2 separate regions of the Homo sapiens genome follow, and region 2 is linked to region 1. Evidence: fine-mapped expression QTL. A gene starts in region 1. The other region holds a variant in brackets. All regions are shown on one strand. Distances are between the middles of the regions.

Evidence for each region. PIP is the estimated chance that this variant, and not a neighbour inherited with it, causes the effect.
Region 2: its variant is fine-mapped to the expression of RPAIN in lymphoblastoid cells (GTEx, PIP 0.97).

Annotation. Positions count from the first base shown.
Region 1 is chr17:5,413,664-5,424,475 of GRCh38, forward strand. It overlaps RPAIN (RPA interacting protein), which reads left to right and starts at 6,519. Exons shown (of 7, transcript NM_001033002.4): 1 at 6,519-6,628; 2 at 7,633-7,803; 3 at 9,106-9,166. The coding sequence starts at 6,548. It overlaps NUP88 (nucleoporin 88), which reads right to left and starts at 5,999. Exons shown (of 17, transcript NM_002532.6): 1 at 5,691-5,999; 2 at 2,850-3,019; 3 at 346-471. The coding sequence starts at 5,987. RefSeq lists enhancers at 5,361-6,000, 5,636-6,173, 6,174-6,711, 6,441-6,560, 6,571-6,790 and 1 more.
Region 2 is chr17:5,814,798-5,825,609 of GRCh38, forward strand. All of the region lies in intron 1 of LOC339166 (a long non-coding RNA gene), which reads left to right. Among named protein-coding and RNA genes, the nearest start is that of NLRP1, 240 kb to the left of the region's middle. The variant C/G (reference allele first, on the strand shown) is at 5,216.

The DNA of each region.
Region 1 (10,812 bases):
GGTGGGACAATAATTCAAATCTCTAAATTTACACTTACATTCTCTTTCCTTTATGCTACATTATTACCAAAAGGGTGACAATGATGAAAGAGTTTTGGAAAGATTATTCTAAGGTGTCAGATTAGGAGAGGAGATACCTGGAGGCAGGAAGACTAGTTGAGAAGGAATAGTGGTAAGTTAGAGCAGTTAGGCAATTCTTATGATTGAGAATGGGTTACAACAGCCATCCAATAAAAGCACTGACTCATTCAATGACTCACTTCGTTCTATGTTGAGCTGTTAATTGGCAAACAGAAACAGAGCTTTCCCACTCGCAAGGCTTCAAGAGAGAGAAATAAAATTTACCTGATTACGTTGTCTGATGTTAACAGCACTACGTGGGGATCCAGGATTTCACTTGGATACCATGCAGCATGCTTTAGAGTCAGAGAGGTGGAACTGGTGAAAAATCTCTCCGCAACTGGAGTGGTACTAAAATAAAGATAATAATTTTCCAAAACATTTTGTACAACTTGGATGAAAATCTTCTAAAGGAACTTCTTTTTTTTGCAGATGGAGTTTCTCTCTTGTTGCCCAGGCTGGAGTGTAACGGCACAATCTCGGCTCACTGCAACCTCCGCCTCCCAGGTTCAAGTGATTCTCCTGCCTCAGTCTTTCAAGTAGCTGGGATTACAGGCACCTGCCACCTCGCCCAGCGAACTTTGTATTTTCAGTAGAGAGGGGGTTTCTCCATGTTGGTCAGGCTGGTCTCAAACTCCCGACCTCAGGTGATCTGCCCACCTCGGCCTCGCAAAGTGCTGGGATTACAGGCATGAGCCACCACGCCAGGCCCTGAAGAAATTTCTATTTTAACACTCTTTGATTCTCTTTCCTTCAGATTTATTTCCCTGAAATCATGCTGAGAGGACATTCAAGGCATCTATTCAATCAATATCAAAGAATTGAAATAAAAATATCTTCTAAATTATAGCACACTGGCTGGGCGCAATGGCTCACGCCTATCTTAGCACTTTGGGAGGCCAAGGCAGGTGGATCACCTGAGGTCAGGAGTTTGAGACCAGCCTGGCCAACATGGTAAAACCCCGTCTCCACTAAAAATACAAGAATTAGGCAAGTGTGGTGGCACATGCCTGTAACCCGTTACCCGTGAGGCTGAGGCAGAAGAATCGCTGGAACCCAGGAGGTGGAGGCTGCAGTGAGCTGAGCTTGTGCCACTGCACTCCAGCCCGGGCTGAGGAGGTTGCAGTGAGCTGAGATCACGCCACTGCACTCCAGCTTGGGCTACAGAGCCAGACTCTGTCTCAAAATAAATAAATAATTTATTTATTTTAATAATTTAAATTATTTATTTAAATTTTATTTGTTTATTTATTTGAGATGAAGTCTCACTCTGTGGCCCAAGCTGGAGTGCAGTGGCGTGATCTTTGCTCACTGCAACCTCCGCCTCCTGGATTTAATCAATACTTGTGCCTTAACCTCCTGAGTAGCTGGGACTACAGGCGTGTGCCACCACACCCCACTTATTTTTTGTATTTTAGTAGAAATGAGGTTTCACCATGTTGCCCAGGGTGGTCTCAAGCTCCTGAGCTCAGGTGATCCACCTGCCTCGGCCTCCCAAAGTGCTGGGATTACAGGTGTGAGCCATCGTGCCTGGCTCCAAATTATAGCATATTTCATACGTATATATACATTTTAGGATGGTTTGACTTAGGATTGATACATATTTATACAGTACAAGTGTTTTCAGATATAGTATCTCATTTGATCTTTTTACTAACCCTGTAAGGAAATTACAAGGGCAGATATTATCAATCCTATTTTTAAAATGAGGAAACAGATTTAGAAGGTAAACAGTTTAAGGGGACTCAACTTATAAGTTGCGGAGCTAAAAGCAGTTTCTACCTTATACAGATGATCCCCAACTTTACAATGGGTTTACCAGTACATAAGCCAACATAAACTGAGGAGCTCCTTACGACTTATGATGGGGTTACCCATCATAATGTTGAAAAATCCTACGTTGAACCATCCTAAATCGGGGATCCTCTGCTGTGTTGTCAGCAATAAATCCATTTTCAACTTACACTGGGTTTATCGGGACATAACCCAATCGTAAGTTGAAAAGCATCTGTACTCTTTTCAGTAGATCTTTCAGATTCACTTTTCTGGATTTGTTGAAAAAGAAATTATATAAAAATAGGCCAGGTGCGGTGGCTCACACCTATAACCCCGGCACTTTGGGAGGCTAAGGTGGGTGGATCACTTGAGGTCAGGAGTTCAAGACCAGCTTGGTCAACATGGTGAAACCCCGTCTCTACTAAAAATACAAAAATTAGCTGGGCATGGTAGCGCTTGCCTGTAATCCCAGTTACTCGGGAGGCTGAGGCAGAAGAATCGCTTGAATCCAGGAGGCGGAGCTTGCAGTGAGCCGAGATTGTGCCACTGCACTCCAGCCTGGGTGACAGAGCAAGACTCCATCTCAAAAAAAAAAAAAAAAAAAAAAGTATATATATATATACACACATACACACACACACACACACATAAAATACTTACACTTCTGGCAAACTTCTGGCTGACAGATAACTGGTTTTACAAAATCTTACTTCTACCTAATCGAAAGAATGGCCTAGCCTCAAATGAGACAGCAACGTGGTACTTCAGGCAGAATAAAGTACAATCAATTACACATATACTATGAACATTGATAACACAGAAGCCAGTCTGCAGACCACGAGGAGTGTTTTAATGTTTTAAGAGTAGTATACTAAACATGCTTAAGAACCACTAGTCTTGAACAATTTTCTGTATATATAATAAATTATACAGATAAATAGTATACAACTTACCTACAATTCACTGTTGATTTTCCACCTTCAAATTCAGAATTCTTCCCCCATCTTTTAGGTAATTCTAATACCATAAGTCCTTTTATTCCTATAAGTGCTACATGATGTTGTGTTGGGCTTAACAAGACTTGATAGATTTCAAACAGGGGTGGATTTATGCAAAGCAATCTCTGAAAATTAGAGCAAACCAGTCAACATAGTTAATTTTAATTTAAATATAGGTGGCAGTTACTTGAAATCACAGTAATACTTAGTTTACTACAATTATAGGATAATAAAACTCTGGATAAGTACTCACACTTGTACCATTAACTCACAAATTTTTTTTTTTTTTTTTGAGACAGAGTCTTGCTGTCACCCAGGCTGGAGTGCAGTGGCAGCCCACTGCAGACTTTACTATGGGGGTTCAAGTGTCCTCCCCACCTCAGCTTCCAGAGGAGCTGGGACTACAGGTGTGCACCATCACTCCCAGCTAATTAAAAAGGTTTTTTTTGTAGAGATGGGGGTTTCGTCATGTTGCCCAGGCTGGTCTGAACACCTGTTCCCGTGCTCACAAGATCCACCTGCCTCCACCTTGGCCTCCTAAAGTGCTGATTATAGGCTACAGCTACCACACCCAGCTTACTCATGCTTGCTTTTAACATCCAAAGTTACAACTCATGATAAGCTGCTTTCTTCCCCATCTCTAAGGTTTTGAGATTTTGGAGGAGTGAAGGTTATTGAGATAGTCACCAATATTTACTGAAAGCTTATAAATTCTGGGCACTCCAGCATTTCTGTATGCTGGACATACAAAAATAAGTAAATAGCCAGGCGTGGTGGCACATGCCTGTAGTCCCAGCTACTTCCAGGCGCTGAGGTGGGAGGATCACTCGACCCCTGACAGTAGAGGCTCCAATGAGCCGTGATCACACCACTGCACTCCAGCCTGGGCAACAGAGAAAGACCCCATTTCAAAAATAAAAAATAAAATACGTTTTTAAAAAATGACAAGGGCAGACCCAGCCCCTGCCTTGGAGCTTACAGTCTAGAAAAGAAGACAGAGGCAGAGTGCCATGGCTCACGGCTGAAATGCCAGCACTTTGGGAGGCCAAGACGGGTGGATCACCTGAGGCCAGGAGTTCCAGATCAGCCTGGTTAACATGGTGAAACCCCGTCTCCACTAAAAATACAAAAAGTAGCCGGGTACGGTGGAGTGGGCCTGTAATCCCAACTACTCAAGAGGCTGAGGCAGGAGAATCGCTTGAATCCATGAGGTGGAGGTTGCAGTTAGCTGAGATTGCACCACTGCACTCCAGCCTGGGCAACAGAGCGAGATCCTGCCTCAAAACAAAACAAAACAAAAACAGCCGGGCGCAGTGGCTCACGCCTGTAATCCCAACACTTTGGGAGGCCAAAGCCAGCAGATCACGAGGTCAGGAGTTCAAGACCAGCCTGGCCAACATGGCGAAACCCCGTCTCTACTAAAAACACAAAAATTAGTCGGGCGTGGTGGCAGATACCTGTAATCCCAGCTACTCGCGGGGGGGGCTGAGGCAGAAGAATCGCTTGAAACTGGAAGGTGGAGGTTGCGGTGAGCCGAGATGGCGCCATTGCACTCCAGCCTGGGCAACAAGAGCGAAACTCCATCTCAAAAAAAAAAAAAAGACACAAAATAATTATAAATAATTAAGTTATGATTATGTCAAATGCTACACAGCAGTATAGAATGTTATTAGAATACTGCGTGCTGCACATTTGGTAATTATTATTATTTTTTGAGACACAGTCTTGCTCTGTTGCCCAGGCTGTAGTGCAGGGGCGTGATCTCAGCTCACTGCAACCTCCTCCTCCCAGGTTCAAGCGATTCTCCTGCCTCAGGCACCTGAGTAGCTGGGATTACAAGGGCGCGCCACTACACCTGGCTAATTTTTGTATTTTTAGTAGAGACGGGGTTTCACCATGTTGGCCAGGCTGGTCTCGAATTCCTGACTTCAGGTGATCCACCTGCCTCTGCCTCCCAGTGTTGGGACTGCAGGCGTGAGCCACCGCGCCCGGCCTTCATAATTCTTTTTAACTGAAATTGGGTAAATAAGTAGACTGTAGACTCCTGCCCTATTTTCAAAACTGCAGAAGCATTGCTAGCGTCTTATTAAAATTAAATCACTTCTCGGTAACAAGAATTGGACCGGGCACACAACAGATGTCATACCTTAGAATGAGTACCAAGCTCTTTTTCATCTTTAAGAGAATCTGTGTATTACAAATAAACATTTCCATAAACCAATATTTGACCACGGCAAGTGTGTAATACTTTCTGGATCACACCCATTTTCACATGCTGTCGGCTAATCAAAAACAAAAATCCCCATTTTGGGTATGGCTTTATTTTCTAAAGCGGGCGTTACGGGGGTAAGAATTAACAGAGACTTCCTCCTCCATGTCAAGCATGAAGCGTGGTGCTTTGAAACCTGCAACCTGACTTGCTGTGCACAACGCAAGAGAAAGTTACGATCTAACCTATTATAAGCGTCACATCAGGAAACAGGTTTCTCTCGACGAAACTAAAAATAGCAACTCCGCCCACTCGTTCTCAACCCCTTTAGCCCGCTTTGTTTTTCTCCAGAGCACTCATCCGTCACTAGTATTTTTATTGAATATTCAATGACCCTTTCCTTCCTCCCAGGCCTCCAGGCCGTAAGCATCGAGAGAGCCTGAGTCCCCGCGACCGCGTATGGCAGCGTCGGAGTCAATCCGCTGGAACGCCTGCCACAAGATGAAAAACAGCCAAGAGGAGCAAGGAACAAAAAAGACTGGTTCCGATCCCGGTGAGGGTCACTTCCAAGATCGGCCTGGCATTACCTGGTACTGGGACAGGGCGGGCTCTTCGCCGCCGCCGCTGGGGCCCCGAAGGCGAACGACTAAGAAGGAGCTGTCTTCTCCGTCCCACAGGAAAAGCTCTCCGCCGAGGCCAAAGACCACGTTTCTCGTCAGCAACTGCGGCGGCGGCGACGAAGGCAACGACGAAGAAGCTGGTTTCTCAGCTTCGGTTGGACTCTGGTTTTTCAGTCCCTCCCGGAGCCGCAAGAACACGACGTGGTTAGGAAGCCAGGTCTGCCACAGCTCGCCGTCGCCCACCGGTCCCTCGGCGGCCGCCATCTTGGCCCAACTGCTCCCCTCACTCCAGTTGCTCAGCCCGCCGCTGAGCACAGCCAATCCGCGGCCGTCCACTCACTGTTTCGGCCAATCACCGAGCAGACGGCCCGGAAGCTCGAGAGGCTCGTGCCAGGTCGGGGGGCGAAGGCGAGGCCAGCCCACCAAGCAGGGGCGTCACCAAGGGAAAGCCAATCACCATTATTTCTGAAGCCCAAGGGGGCGGGACGAGAAGTCAACATAATGGTGGTGCTGCTGGAAATCTAGCACCTGGGGAGAGCCTGAGACTTGTGTATCTAATTGCCTATTGGACACCTCCATCTGGGTAAACCCAGGCATCCAGAACTTTCCCTCAAGACTTACCTCCCTCAGTGCAGGTCGGGCTGGCCTCACGCATTTCGCTTGGATGCCTAAATCTGTCTCCACGTGGGGCCGGTCGATAAAACAACACTTCCCAGAATACGCTGCGATCCATTCGCGGTCTGCACCCGGAAAGTACACCTCCCAGGGGTCTGTGCGCGCCTCCAGGGAACGGGTCTTGTGGCTTTGTCTCCCGCGAAGAGGAGATGGCGGAGTCGTTGAGGTCTCCGCGCCGCTCCCTGTACAAACTGGTGGGCTCGCCGCCTTGGAAAGAGGCTTTCCGGCAGGTGGGTATGGGGTTTGTGCAGTGGTCTACCCTAGATCGTCCCGGTGACCGCCGTCTTCCCTGCCTTCGCCTTAGCCCTGCTCCGTGGAGCAGGTGCCGCAGCGCGCCTGGTCTGGTCAAACCCAGGCCTGCTGACTGTAGAGTGTGGGATTAGCCCGGGTCGGTCAAGTCCTAGAAAGCCTTGTTTTTGGATTCGATTTTGTTTTGAATTTAAATTGTGGTCAGGACATCACCGTTTGCACCTCTGCAATAACACTACCTACTGTTGCTGCGGAGGTGGCCACCGAGAGAGGCACTTTGTCTACGTTCGTCTTGTGAGATAGAGATGATTTCTATTCTAGAGAGTAGTAAAATGAGGCTTAGAAGAGGGCTCCACCTCAGTTCTGGCCTCTTCTGAACACAGTGTGGTTATTAGTAAGTAATGTCCAAGAAAGTAACCCGACGCAAGAAAGATAGCAGATACAGCAGAGTTTCTCAGCCTTGACAATGGACATTTTGAGGGAGATATTTATATGTTGTGGAGGGTTGTTTAAGCCACGTCTCGGGCCTCCACCCACTAGATGCTAATAGTCCTATAACTAGAATTGTGACAACCAGAAATGTCTCCAAGCATTGCCAAATGTTCCTTGGGGGACAAAACCTCCCTGAGTTCAGAAACGCTGCTGTGCAGGAAGGCCGTTACCCAGCCATATCTAGAGTAGCAAGAATTTGGAAGGAATATAAATGTTCTGTAATAGGACATTGGATGCTGAGATATTATGCACACAACCATTAAGGAAACTGGCAAGCTAGAATAAAAAATATGGTTCTTTGTAAATACGTGTACAAAGCATTGTAATTTTATGTATCTCTACAGAGGAATATGCAAAAGTAACACTAGTTAGTATTATCATTGAAATTTTGTGTCTATAAACTTTCTTTAATGTTTTCTCAACTAATGTAAGAGTGTTTTTTAAAAATAGAAATGCTTTTTTTTTCCCCCCCAATCTTGCTCTTTTTTCCCAGAGATGCCTGGAGAGAATGAGAAACAGCCGGGACAGGCTCCTAAACAGGTACCGCCAGGCTGGAAGCAGTGGGCCAGGGAATTCTCAGAACAGCTTTCTAGTTCAAGAGGTGATGGAAGAAGAGTGGAATGCTTTGCAGTCAGTGGAGAATTGTCCAGAAGACTTGGCTCAGGTCAGGCTGGGCTATGTGTTTTCAGGGAGGGGGACTGCACCACCAAGAACGGCTCGTGTCCTCTTTTATTTGTTTACTTGAGTCCTCTAAACCCACCATTCCCCTAACCCCATTTAGAATTCAACAGCCTTTAACCCAGGCTTTTCTACACTTAATGTTAGACTTGTCTAGATGAAATGGTCTGAAATACCAGACCGTAGACCTGCTCATCACTGCAACATCATCATTTATGAAACTAAAAAGAAAGAAATTTCATTTCTTGCCTCCACCCTTGGAAATTATGATTCAGTAGGCATAGGCTAGGAATCTCTTTCTCTCCCTCTCTCTCGCTCTTTTTTTTTTTCTGTCTTGCTCTGTCGCCCAGGCTGGAGTGCAGTGGCAAGATCTCGGCTCACTGCAACCTCCACCTCCTGGGTTCAAACGATTCTCCTGTCTCAGCCTCCCAAGTAGCTGGGATTACAGATGTGTGCCACCATGCCCGGCTAATTTTGTTTCTGTTTTAGCAGGGATGGGGTTTCACCATGTTGGCCAGGCTGGTCTTGAACGCCTGACCTCTAGTGATCTGCCCACGTCAGGAATCTCTTTCTAAAAAGGTCTCCAGAAACTTTCCGATTCTAATCTCAGCCAACGTTGGCAGCCATGTGTGGAAGGGAAAACCATTTATAGTGTATCAGGAAGAACACTGGATTCGAAGTCAGGAGTTCCAGAATTCAAATCCTGGTTTGGCTATTGACTGTTAACTTCAGTTTGCCTCTTTGAGGTTTAGTTTTCACATTTATAAAATGAGAAGATAATGTTTTCAGCATTGTAAGGACTGTGTAAGAAAATGTGGGCAACTGTTTGAAACCATCAACACCCTGTGTAATAATGATGCATTATTCAGTGGCTTTTGTGTGTCCTGCAGTACACCAATGTTTGCCTTATATCACCACAACTAGTACTCACAGTAACCCTCTTAGATAGATTTTATTCCCACTTTACAGAGGCCAAAACTGAGATTTGCAGAGATTAGGAACTTTTCATGTGGTTACGTAGCCTTGGAAGAATATGTACCTAACTGCTACCCTATATCGTCTCTCCAAAATTGGGTACCATTATTTTGTCACTGGATAGTTGGATCATTTGTTGATGGCTTGTCAGCATGACAGCATTACCCCACTGTCAGCATATTCTGCAGGAGGACTGGACTGATTTTGTCCAATAAATCTGGGTTCTTCAAGCCAGCCTCCAAGTATGAATCACTGTGGGGCTTGGTTGGTGATTAATACTTCAAACTTCTGATGCCGCTCCTTTCTCTTCCAGCTGGAGGAGCTGATAGACATGGCTGTGCTGGAGGAAATTCAACAGGAGCTGATCAACCAAGGTAACCCCTAGTGGTAGTCCTTCCTTACCTGTATTTAGCTACTGGAATACTGTGACCTTTCCTCCAATCAGGATTAGTTTATAAGTCCCCTTTGTCTACCTCCATCAGTCAAGTGTCCAAAAGACTCCTTTTGTACTCTGACATCTTGGCTGTCTAGCTTCTCAATAATAAGGGTCTCCAGGGTGCTAGACCTTGTGCTAAGAACTTCTCATTTAATGATGCTGTTTTCTCCATGTGACTGCCCTGTAAGATAGTAGTATTAGAACAGAAGGTGGTTGGTGTTCTCGTGCAGGTCATACAGCTAGTAAGTGGAGGAGATGGGAAGCAAAATCAGTTGTATGAATCCAGTTCCCATGTTTCTTCTACCATCCTGCCTCTCTATTAATGGGTTAATAGTTCACTGAGGGTGGTGGCTTATGCCTGTAATCCCAGCATTTTGAGAGGCTGAGGCAGGAGTATTGCTTGAGGCCAGTTCAAGACCAGCATGGGCAACATAACAAGATCCTGTCTCTACAGAAGTAAAAAAAAAAAAAAAAAAATTATCTGGGTGTGGTAGCAAATACTTGTAGCCTCCCTCAGCCAGAAGGCTTAGGCAGGAGGATCACTTGAACCCAAGAGTTTAAGGTTACAGTGAGCTATAATTTTACCACCTCACTCCAGCCTGGCTGACAGAGGGAGACCCTGTCACTTTAAAAAATAAAATAAAAAAAAGTAAACCTGCCATTTTACAGGATACAGTGATAGTGCATGGTCTGATCCCTTGCCCTATTCATTTTAAGTGCCACATTCTCTATTAACTCCCCAGGGCCTGTGAGCATCCACTCCTTGAGGGAGGTGTCCATAGCATGGTGTAGAGAGCATAATTTTGTACCTTATATAGTTAAGTCATTTATTCCATGTAGCCCTGATTTGATTAGGCCTTGTTTGGTTTTTGTTTTTGTTTTTTTTGAGACAGGGTCTCTGCCCAGGCTGGAATGCAGTGGCGTGATCACGGCCCACTGCAGCCTTGACCTCCTGGGCTTAAGCGATCTTCCCACCTCAGCCTTCTGAATAGCTGGGATCATAGGCGTGTGCCACCACCCCTGGCTAATTTTTTTTTATTAATTTTTTTTTTTTAGCTAAAGATGATAAAAACAAGACAAAAAATTATTTTATTTATGTATTTTTTTTTTTTTTGAGATAGGTTCTTGCTCTGTTGCCCAGGCTGGAGTGCAGTGATGTAATCATGGCTCACTGTGGCTTCATCCTCCTAGGCTCAACCAATCCTCTCATCTCAGCCTCCCGAGTAGCTGGGACCGCAAGTGTGCACCACCATACCGAGCTAATTTTTTTATTTTTTTGTAGAGACAGGGTCTCACTGTGTTGCCCAGGCTGGTCTCGAACTCCTCCCTGGTCTCAAGTGATCCCCCCACCTCAGCCTCCTAAAGTTTTGAGATTACAGGCATGAGCCAAAATGCCTAGCCTAATTTTTTAAATTTTTTTGTAGAGGCAGGGTCTCACTATGTTGCCTAGGCTGGTCTCAAACAGCTGGACTCAAACCATCCTCCTACTTCAGCCTCCCAAAGTGTTGGGATTACAGACATGAGGCATGGCCCCCAGCCTTAGGCTTCATTTTTATGACCTATAAAATGGAGAGAATACCCTAT
Region 2 (10,812 bases), 400 kb after region 1:
GTCATTGGCTATTTGGGTTTTGTCCACTGATTTTTCAGGATCATGATAGAAACTCTAATGGACAACCCTCTAACAGCACCCCAGAATTCAGAATTCCTGACGGCGGGTTCCAGGCATCTGTATATTTTTAAAGCTCCCAAAGTTTTCTGTGATTCTTGATTATTTCCTCAGGATCAATTCCTAGAATTGCTACACCAAAAGTATACTTAGAATTCTTTTAATTCTTATTACCCAGTTGTCCCTCAGAAAGATAACGTGCATTTCACCATCAATTTGTCAGAACCTGGCTTCTTTACCTTTGCTGATACAGGTATTAGATTTTAAAATGCCTCCCAGCCGAGAGGCCCAAATGGTGCATTGCCAGTGTTTTGATTTGTGTTTCTTGGATTACTGCTGAGGCTGAGCATCTCTTCCTATTCATTGGCCGTGTATATTTCTTCATTTCTGAATGGACCTCACAGTGGATTTAAGATTTATAGTTACACTCAGATGTGCAGCAGAAATGTAACTTTCTTCATTTTTTTTTTATAACCAAGCTTAGCTTGGTCCTGAATTTCTACCATTTCCACTCAGCAGAAACAAGCCAATTTTTTATTCAAAGTAACTTCTTGCTCAGTCACTTCCAGGTGACACGGTCTCACCTCCTGCACCCACTCCCATTCCTTTGGTCTCGATACTACTCTTTGGCACCTTGGTCCTTGGGGGCAGCCTCTGCACCGGCTGTGTCTGCTGCTGCTGCTGCTGCTGCTAGTAGTGTTCCCTGCTGTCCAGACCCCACCCTGGCTGGAATAGGAGCTGCAGAGGCCTGGGAGGTTGGACTGCAATAACAGTCTTTAGAGTCCAGCCCGGCCGGGTCTCTGAACCACACAGGAGGTGAGAACAACTCAGGAAGAGGGTTCCTCCACACCCCCTTCTCAGCTACCACTTGTACTCTCTTGATATCACCCCTCATTCCTCTCAGTGGCTGCCAGGGTTCTGGGTGGGAAGCAGACAAAAGACACTCTGCTCCCAGCCTTTTCTGGGGGCCAAGGAAAAATCTATGGCCACCTTGCTTGATCTTTCAAATTTCTCTCTTCCTTTTTTTTTGAGATGGAGTCTCACTCTGTTGCCCAGGCTGGAGTAGTGGCGTGATCTCGGCTCACTGCAAACTCTGCCTCCTGGGTTCAAGTGATCCTCCTTTCTCAGCCTCCTGAGTAGCTGGGACTACAGGTGCACGCCACCACGTCCAGCTAATTTTTGTATTTTTAGGAGAGATGGGGTTTCACCATGTTGGCCAGGCTGGTCTTGAACTCCTGACCTCAAGCAATCCACCCACCTCGGCCTCCCAAAGTGCTGGGATTACAGGCGTGAGCCACTGTGCTCGGCCAAATTTCTCTCTTCTTCTAAGAGAATTTGATTTGTTTTTGAGTGGAAAAACTGCTCTCGCCTCCTGTTTAGCATCCTCTCAACTCTGTGATCTTGGCTTTAGAGGCTTTGGCTTTGTTTTGTTTTTTTGTTTTGATGGCATTTGCAAAGAAAACTCTTTCTCTTGCAAATAAAAAATACTTTGACTATTGTTACAGGGAGGTCTTTAAAAGCTCCATTTTGAAAGTAAAATATGAGCAATACACTTATTCCTGGGTTTGCACTGTGGGGTGCTCATTAGAATCACTTGGAGAGCTTTTAAAAACCCTGATGCTCAGGCAGCACCCCAGAATTCAGAATTCCTGACAGTGGGTTCCAGGCATCCATATATTTTTAAGGCTCCCGAAGGGATTCAAATGGGTAACCAGGGTAGAGAAGTACTTGTTCCAAGCTGCAACTGCCCTACCCATTTCTGGGGCAATGGACCTAAGTAACCTCATGGCTCTTGAAGGCAGGGCTCCAAAGCACCCGGGGAACAAACTGGGCTGTGCCACTGAGGGCTGGGAATGCTGGCGCATGGGCTTCGCACCTGCATCTCAGGGCCTTGGAGGCAGAAGGGGCTCTCAGCTGGGTGTGGATTCATCTCCAGCCGGCTTGACAGGCCTGAGATGGAGGCTCACAGATGGAACCCTGCTAGGGGGAGAGGGGAGGAGGACTCTGCCCCTAGGTCCTCATTAGGCAGTGTAGGCGGGAAAGGACTTCCTCTGTTGCTGGAGTTTGTCAAAGATCAATATGCTGCAACATATGTTTTACAGCTTCCTGTGGTCTCTGATAAATCTCTGGAGACTCCTTTATTTGTCTTTTTTCCCCCTCAAGGTTATGAAGCCAACTGTTTTCCTCAGTGTACAGATGCGCGGAGGCAGGGAGCTCATTTTCCGTGAGAAACTGGCTTCTGAGGATGGAGGCTTTGGGGGAAGCTGGCACTCGGCCTACAGGACAGAGTGGTTGGGGTGTGGCAGACGGTGGGCAGCGTCTCTCCTCGGTCATGCACAGAACACAGGACAGACCCCTTTGCAAAGACTGATAGAAGCGACTTTGCTGTTTCCTTCACAGCAGCGTGGTTTTTAGCTTTCTACGCGCAAGGCATTTTGATGGAGGAATTAGGCACGTTTCCTGCCCTCCAGACACTTGCAGGTAGCAGGGGAGATAACTAGCTACCATTATTTCCAGCACCAGCTGCATGTCAGGCACAGGTGATGGAGATGATAATAGTATTAATAAAGCCTCCCACTTATTTAGCTGCTAATATGAGCTTGGCCTTTTAAAGCACTCTCTGTGTTCCTCACAGGAACTGGATGTAAGATGTCTTGCTACTGGAAGTGTGGCCCTGGACCAGTAGCTGCAGCTTTGCCTGAGACCTTCTTAGAAAGACAATCAGGCTCATCCCAGGCCCCTGAATCTGAATGCCTAGCCAAACAAGATCCCCAGGTGGTCCTGTATGGCTTGTCATCCCCATTTTACAGACAAGAAAACAGAGGCTCAGTGGGAATTGAGCAACTTGCTCAAGGCCACAGGGCACCTAGAAGTTAAGTGGAGATTTGAACCCACATTCTGGTTCCAAGACCTGCTGGTTTCCCACTCTGCAATGCTGCCTCACGGGACTCAGCAGATGTTGGTAAAGGCTAGACTGCAGTGCTATTGGAGAACTGAGGACTGGAGGAGGAACAGTCCCCAGATTTCAGATTTCAGATGGGGAAACAGCCAGGAGGGCTTCCTGGAGGAGGAGGTGTTTGAATCAGTCCTACAAGAGTGGGCAGGACCTGAAGAGAAGGGGCAGGCTTATTTGAGGTGGAGGAAGCAGCCTGAGCAAAGACAGGGAAGAGTGAGTATCGTTCATTCAGAACCTTCTCTTGGTGGCTGCAGACTCCTATGGCCAGACACAATACAGGATTTGAGATAGGATGGTGGCGATTCAGGAAAGCTTTGATTTCCCATTTGTCTGTGACTGCCAGAGGAAGCAGCCACACAGCCTCTGCCCTGGCTGCAGGGTGCTTAGAAATGGACCTGCCTAGAGGGAGGTCTGGACCCTTGGCCCCTGCTTCTTTGGGTCTGCGGAACCCTTTCCTCCCATGATCCCCTGCTGTGCCATGCCTTGCCTTCCCCAACCTGCCCCATCATCCCTTCACTGCTGAACTCAGAGAAAGGCTCACATAGCCCTTGACCCCTGGACACAGAAACCCCCATCTCTAGGCAATAACCAGTGGTCCAATTGGAGGTCATCATGGGACCTTGTCCCTGTTCCCTGTTCTGATTTTGGCAGTCAGCCATCTTCTCAAAATATAGATACCAACTGTGGTGGTGCCTGTCAAAGACAAAACCAAACACATAGGGAAATGGATTTTATTTATGTAATATGGAGCGCACCCGAGATCCGAAGATGAGAGTGTGTCTTCAGGGTGGTTTATAGACGTTTAGAGGGAGGAATAGCCAAGTTATAGGTAGGGTGATATTACAGTTAGGATTGTTTTTGTATTCAGAGAGTCTTCATCAATCAGCTGAACAGAAAATGTTTCTCTCTGTCTAGCTGGCTTCAGGAGGACAAACAATTCAGCCAACCATTTATGAGAAAAAGAATGGGAATTTAGAAAGTCCGTGTCTGGCCTTGTCCCGGGTTAACAAGGTGGTCATTCGCTAGTCTTATCTAAGTCATATGGGGGAGGGTGGTTCTTTGCAGTGAGCTGTTTTCCCAAACACAGAAGGGATGTGGGTACTTCTTAACCATCACTGTTTTTGCAAAACACAGGGCTTAGGGAAATTTCAACATCATCATGTCAGAATTTCTATACACAGAGGTGGAAGGAGAACCATCTGATTAGGAGGTGAGGGCCAGAGTAGTCCTTTGAAGTTGTAATTCCAGAGAAAGGATGTTGATTTTATTTGGATTGTGTGTTAATACCGATCAATAAAAATAGCAGAGTTTTCTAAGGATGCTCTTATTAATATTTTACATAAGTCTACAAAAGCATGAGTTTCTCACATCTAAAAGTATTTTTACAATCAACATCATATCATGTTAATGATTGACATGTATGTCAAATGGAATGGAGAATATGGAGAGTGGAGGGTGCAGCTGAGGCTCCATGGCTGCCCTCTGAGCTACGCAGTGGCTGAGGTTTCCTGCCAGGGGAGGCAGGACGTTGCAGTGCAGGGCTTCTCAGATCTTCGTTTGTGGATTATGGCTTTGGAACCACCTGGGAGGCTTGCTAAAATGCAGAATCCTAGGCCCCCATCAGGAGCTGCTGAATCAGAATCTGGGCATAGAGTGGAGTGGGGCTAGGGAGTCTGTACTTTTAACCAGCTCTCTGGTCCTTGATGGGGTGAAGTCAGAGAAGCCTTCCTTGTGAGTCAGATGATAAAAGTGAGGCCTGAAGAATGAGTGGAGGGAGAGACGGAGAGAAGGAGCATTCCAGTCCCAGGGAAGAGAATGTGCAAAGGCCCTGAGGTAGAAAGCTGCCTGGGGCACTTATAGATCAGACCAAGTGTCCTTATGGCTGGAGAGAAGCTGGCCAGGAAGGGAAGGCGCAGTGTAAGCCTGCAGGGAGAGCCCTGGGCCAGGTCCAGTGGGGCCCAGAGAGCCCTCCTGAGCATTCTGGACTTCTTCCTGAGAGATGTGGGTAGTCATCAAGGGTTTTAGTTGAGGGTGGGTGGGTGGGAGAGGTGGGAATGTGAGTTGATCACTGGCCCATCACACCCAAAGTGTCCAAAACTAAACCTCCAGCCCTCAACCTACTCTCCTTCTCAGTGAGGGCCATCGCCCACCCAGACACCTCAGAAGGAAGCCTGGCCATCACCTGGATTCTGCTGACTTGTC[C/G]CAAACATCTCTCGAATCCATCTACTTCTCCCCCCTCACCCCCTCTCCTGCCATTACCTGAGATTGGGCAGTACCTTCTCTCACCTGGACAATGTCAGCAACCTGGGCTTCCTTCCCCCGGCTCGCTCTCCCCATGCCCACCCATTCTCCCTACGATGTAGACTGGCCTTTCTATTAGGCAGTGGTGAGAGATGAGACTGGAGAGATACTCAAACAGCTCGGTGATCCCCACTGCCTCTGGAAACTGTCCTCAACACCATGTGCTCCGTGCCCCCACCCTGCTCCCCTCTCTATCTCTTACCACTGCCTACTCGACAGCCCTCCTCCCACTCCTACCCAGCACCTCCTCACCTCCAGGCTGCTCCACTCTGCCTGACACTTAGATCACTGACTCCAGCACACAGTCCCAGCTCCAGGCCGCCTCGTCTGGAGGCCTTCCTTGACCCTCCCGGGCTGGGCCAGGAACTCCCGCTATGCAGTCTCCTCCCGCCTGCCTGCTCTTCTTGGGGTCTCTCCCAGAGGACCCTGGCCCCTTCTCAGGGGAGGATCTGGGTATTTCTTCCACTACTCCTGGCATCTGGCAGAGCAACTGATCTAGGAAGTGCTTTGTGGGTAAATGTTAGCTAAGCAAGGGTAGGTTTCTTGGCTTCCCCTGGATTGCCCAGTGTGGGGCCCTGATGGCAGCAGCAATCTGGTGGCCTCGGCCTGGGGCTGTTGCTTTCTGGAATATTCTCCTCCCAGCTCCTCGCCTCCCTGCCTCTTCATCTTCTCCCCTTTGGCTTTAATGCTTGTAAGACCATCCAGGATAATTAAGAGAGAGGAGTTTTATGCTGTTTATGGGACTTTGATCAAAGATTTTAATTAACCTACCTTGCTTTAAGCCTTTAAAAGTTCATTCCCCAGGGCTGACCGTTTGATAATGGAATTAATGCTTCTAGGCAGAGTGGGGGAGTGGGGGAAGCAGGAATCGGGAGGGCTGACAAGGAGGGCCTAGCGATTGTCTCATTAACCCTTCCCCAGATGGATAGATTTCGGCTCAACATAAAAGATTTGTCTCAGTCTGAGCTATTCACCTATGGAATGATGGGGTTGGAGTGGTGGTGAGACCCCCATCGCTGGAGGTATGCTAGCAGATACTAGACAGTCTCCTAGGAGGGAGGTTAGTCAGTCATCGCCTCATTGATCAGACGAGGTCACTTTTAGGGACCTGCCAGACCTACGAGTCATTCTCTCTCTCCCTATGCCATGCTGGGGAGGGGCAGGGTACACAGTCTGACTCATACCTGGAGCTTTGGGTTGAGGTCAAACCAGTAGTTCTAATAAGAAGACAAAGACTAAAGGCAGCAACTCCATGAAGCTAACATACCACTTGCAAAAAAATCACTCTTCCAACCAGCCTTCATGGAAGCTGCGCAGAGGGAATACTTATCTGTGCAGACACCACCTCATGGGTTCAGACCTGTGCATCTGCTTTAGAAGCCCCGAACTAGTTGTCACTGGGGAGGCAGTCCTGCAGGTAGGGGTTCCTGAGCAGACATGCACCAGACACCCCTGGAAAGAGACTTCCTGGAGCACAGGCCCTGCCTGTTCTCAGATGCCAGTGCCTTCCGGTAACAAGCACCTCCTTTAGCTCAGGTGAGGATCTTGGTGAGACAGTCTGCTGTTTTGAACTTGGGGGGAAAAGGGACTGCAGTCAGGAATGTCTGTGGTAGGTGGGGTGGGGGATGCAGGAAGGAATTAGGGTTCTTAGCTAAGATCTATTGAGTTGATTATTTTCCAGACACTGTGGCAAGTACTCTATGTGTGTTAACTCATGTAATCTGGCTGGTATTATTTTTCCCATCTAATAGATGAGGAAATCTAGGCCCTTTGAAATACGGCTCCCCAGGGGATGGAGGATGAAGGTCATAGAGTTTCTGGCCCTCTCTGGTCTGGACTCCAGCATGCTTTCCCCCAGCATTCCAGAAATTTTCCACTTACAAGAACTGGCTCATGTCTTCCCTACCATTCTTCAAGGTTTGGCTGAAATGTTGGTGCCCAGCGGCCCATGCCCCACCCAACTCCTCCCATCCTAAGCCCCTGGGAGCTTTCACTGGATTCCCAAAATACTCACTGGTACTTGTATTTTGCCAGTTATGTCCTTCTTTCTGGCGTTATAAATATCCGTTTTAATGCCCAATGCCCAGCCCTCCGGCCGCTAGACAAAGATGATTTCAAGGTGGGAAGACCATGTTTAATTCATCTTTGTCTTATTCCTCCACCCAGCATAAACCCCACATTTCACAAGTGATGTTGAATAAAATGAAAGAGGAAAAGCTCCACTTCTACATCATTAGGTTCTGAGCTGATAAGTAGAAATATTAAGGTGTCAATCAACAAGCATTTCCTGAGTCCTGGTCAAACGGGCAAGGTTCCCCTGTCCCCGTCGCAGGGTGTGCATTGGGGGTGTGGCTCACCTCTTCAGTGCCTCACTGCTGAAATTCTAGGGGAGCATACAGACAGGCAGGCTGTGGGGGCTCTGACCCCATGGTAGTGTCTAGGGGTGAGTGTTCACAGCTGAAGCCCCAGTGGGCGTGTGTTACAGGGTGCTCTTTTAGTTTGCCGTCTATAGGCGGCTTGTGTTAACCAACTCAATTAGAGCCCCTGCTTTATCACAAGGACAGAGAGATTTCTGTATCCCACAGTTTCTTGCCTTGGTATACCACAAGCATCGGATCACACGTGGGCTTGGAGAATGAGTGCAAGGTTTTATTGAGAGGAAGTAGCTCTCAGCAGATGAAGGAGCCAGAAGGGAGATGGTTTTCCCCTGGAGTCGGGCCAGGTGGACGCCCCACTCTTCTCGGACTGCTCCATCCCAGCTCCGCATTGTTTTGCTGGTCAATGGCCGGCCAGGGTGCTGGTGCCTGACCGTGTGTTCTTCCACTGGTGTGCTCCTCTCCATGTCCTCTCAAGGACATCCAGCTGCTTGTCTCTTCCACCCATGTGCTCCTCTCAACGTCTGCCTGTCTGCCCGATAGGGTCTTAGGTTTTTTTTTTTTTTTTTGAGGTGGAGTTTTGCTTTTGTTGCCCAGGCTGGAGTGCAATGGTGCGATCTCGGTTCACCTCAATCTCCACCTCCCAGGTTCAAGCAATTCTCCTGCTTCAGCCTGGTCAGGCTGGTCTTGAACTCCCCACTTCAGGTGATCTTCCCGCCTCGACCTCCCAAAGTGCTGGGATTACAGGCATGAGCCACCACGTGCCCACCTGGGTCTCAGGTTTTTATAGGCCCAGGATGGGGGCGTGGTAGGCCAGGATGGTCTTGGGAAATGCAACATTTGGGCAGGAAATGCCTGTCCTTACCTAGGTCTGTGAGGGTGGAGCCCTAGCCAGGGACCACGCCCTCCTCTACGCAGCACTTCCCTTCCCCACTTCCGTATTATTTAAAGGGACCGTGCTCTTCCCTTCCCAGCACTTCCCTGTCACTGGAAACTATGTATCACCTGGGGGTGGGGAGGAGATGGGGTTGCTTGTCATCATAAGCCCTTCTACAGCCTTTGACTTTTTTTTTTTTTGAGACAAGGTCTCTCTCTGTCACCCAGGCTGGAGTGAGGTGGCATGATCATAGCTCACTGCAGCCTCAAACTCCTGGGTTCAAGCAATCTTCCCACCTCAGCCTCCTGTGTGGATGGGACCACAGGCATGCATCACCACACCTGGCTAATTTTTTTTTTTTTTTTCTGGGTAGACACAGGGTCTCACTATATTTCCCAGGCTGGTCTCAAACTCCTAGCCTCAAGTGATGCTTCTACCTCAGCCTCCAAAAGCACTGGGATTACAGGCATTAGTTACTGTGCCCAGCCTGAATTTTTAAATTATGTATATATATAACTTTGCTTTAAAATGCATATTTAACAGTGAAATAAATGGCATTTTCTTTCATGTCTTAAAATCACCAACCAGAGGGCAAAAAGCCAAATTCCAAGTGGCTAAGCGTGACCCTTATAAGGGAACTGTCAGTTTCCCATTGGGTGGCCTAGGTTCAGAGGGAAGCCCCTGTTTACCCCAATTATGTCCAATGTCTCCAATGATACAGAGGAAAAGGAGCAATGTTTCTTTTTCTTTTCTTTTTTTTTTGAGATGGAGTCTCACTCTGTCACTCAGGGTGGGGTGCAGTGGTGTGGTCTCGGCTCACTGCAAGCTCCGCCTCCCGGGTTCACACCATTCTGCCTCAGCCTCCCGAGTAGCTGGGACTACAGGCACCTGCCACCACACCTGGCTAATTTTTTGTATTTTTAGTAGAGACAGGGTTTCATTATGTTGGCCAGGCTGGACTTGAACTCGGAGCAATGTTACTTTAGGAAGCCGTTTCTGCAGAGGCTTGTCATGGTCGTAAGATGCCAGATCTGACGAGGAGCCCCTTTCATGCCTGTGCTGTAGGAGAGGCTTGAGGGCCAGGCCTGGGGAGCATGGATTCTGTCTTGAATTCCTTTCCTGGTCCTGCTGTTGGAAAAGGCTATGCAGGGAGCGGGTTCTTGAGGCAGGTATCAGAGATGCAGGAGAAGAGGCAAGAGAGAAAGCAAGCATCTCTGTCTACATCCAGAAATTAGATGCAAGGCCTGAAGTTTTCCCATATCTCTGAGAAATTCAGGTGAGGAAAAGGCACGGTTTCCCTTTTACAAAGATAAGATACATTTAGAGTTTGATTAAGCATTGAGGGAGAACAGCTGGAGTTAGTGGGGACAGTACTTATTATAATGCCTGTTTTAAGAAATAGTCACATTTTGGGGGAACAATACCATGGATTATCTGCCATGGCCTAGAGCATCACGGATAAGAGGGCATGCTCCGGGATCAGTCTGGGCTCTGCCTCTCTTTAGCCTTGTGGCCCTAGTCAGGTTTCTTCACCTCTCTGGGCCTCAGTTTCCTCATCTGTGAAAAGGGAACAATGATAGTACCTACCTCAGAGGTTGTTGTGGGGATTAGTTGAGCTAATACATGTAGCTTATGTATTACTGTATGCTCATGTATTACTGGCATAGTAAGTGTCACATAAATGTGAGTTGCTATTATTTATGATTGCTATTACTATCACGTAGGATCTGCTGTCTGTGATGGGGAGAAGCCAGCCAGGGGTGCACATAGTCAAATCCTAAGGTGCCACCGTCACTATCACCAAAGGAGGACATAGATGACTTCTGAGGCATATCTACATTGCTCAGCCTTGTGCTGGCAGGTGGCAGGGAGGGAACCGCTGCATCTGCCACAGCCCCAAATCTAAAGTGGGAAAGGGGCTTGGGATTGCACATAGATGCCCTGAGGCTGTAAGGAATGCCGCCTTGGAGAGCTCCTTGGAAGGAAAGCTTTGGGGGAGCTGAAGCAGAGGGTCTCAAATTTAGAGTGCATCAGAATCGCTGGGAAACTCATTGAATTTCAGCTTCCCAGGTTCATGGTTATTGGGCGGGGCTGCAGCATCTGCCTTTGAAACAAACATCTCTAAGTGATTATGATGCAGTTTTCCTTAGTCTGCAGTTACCTGGGAGACACAGCACATGTAGCTTCTGAGAAATGAGCACCTGAGCTCCCTCACATGAACTGACTTCCTTCTTGGCTGAGAGAAC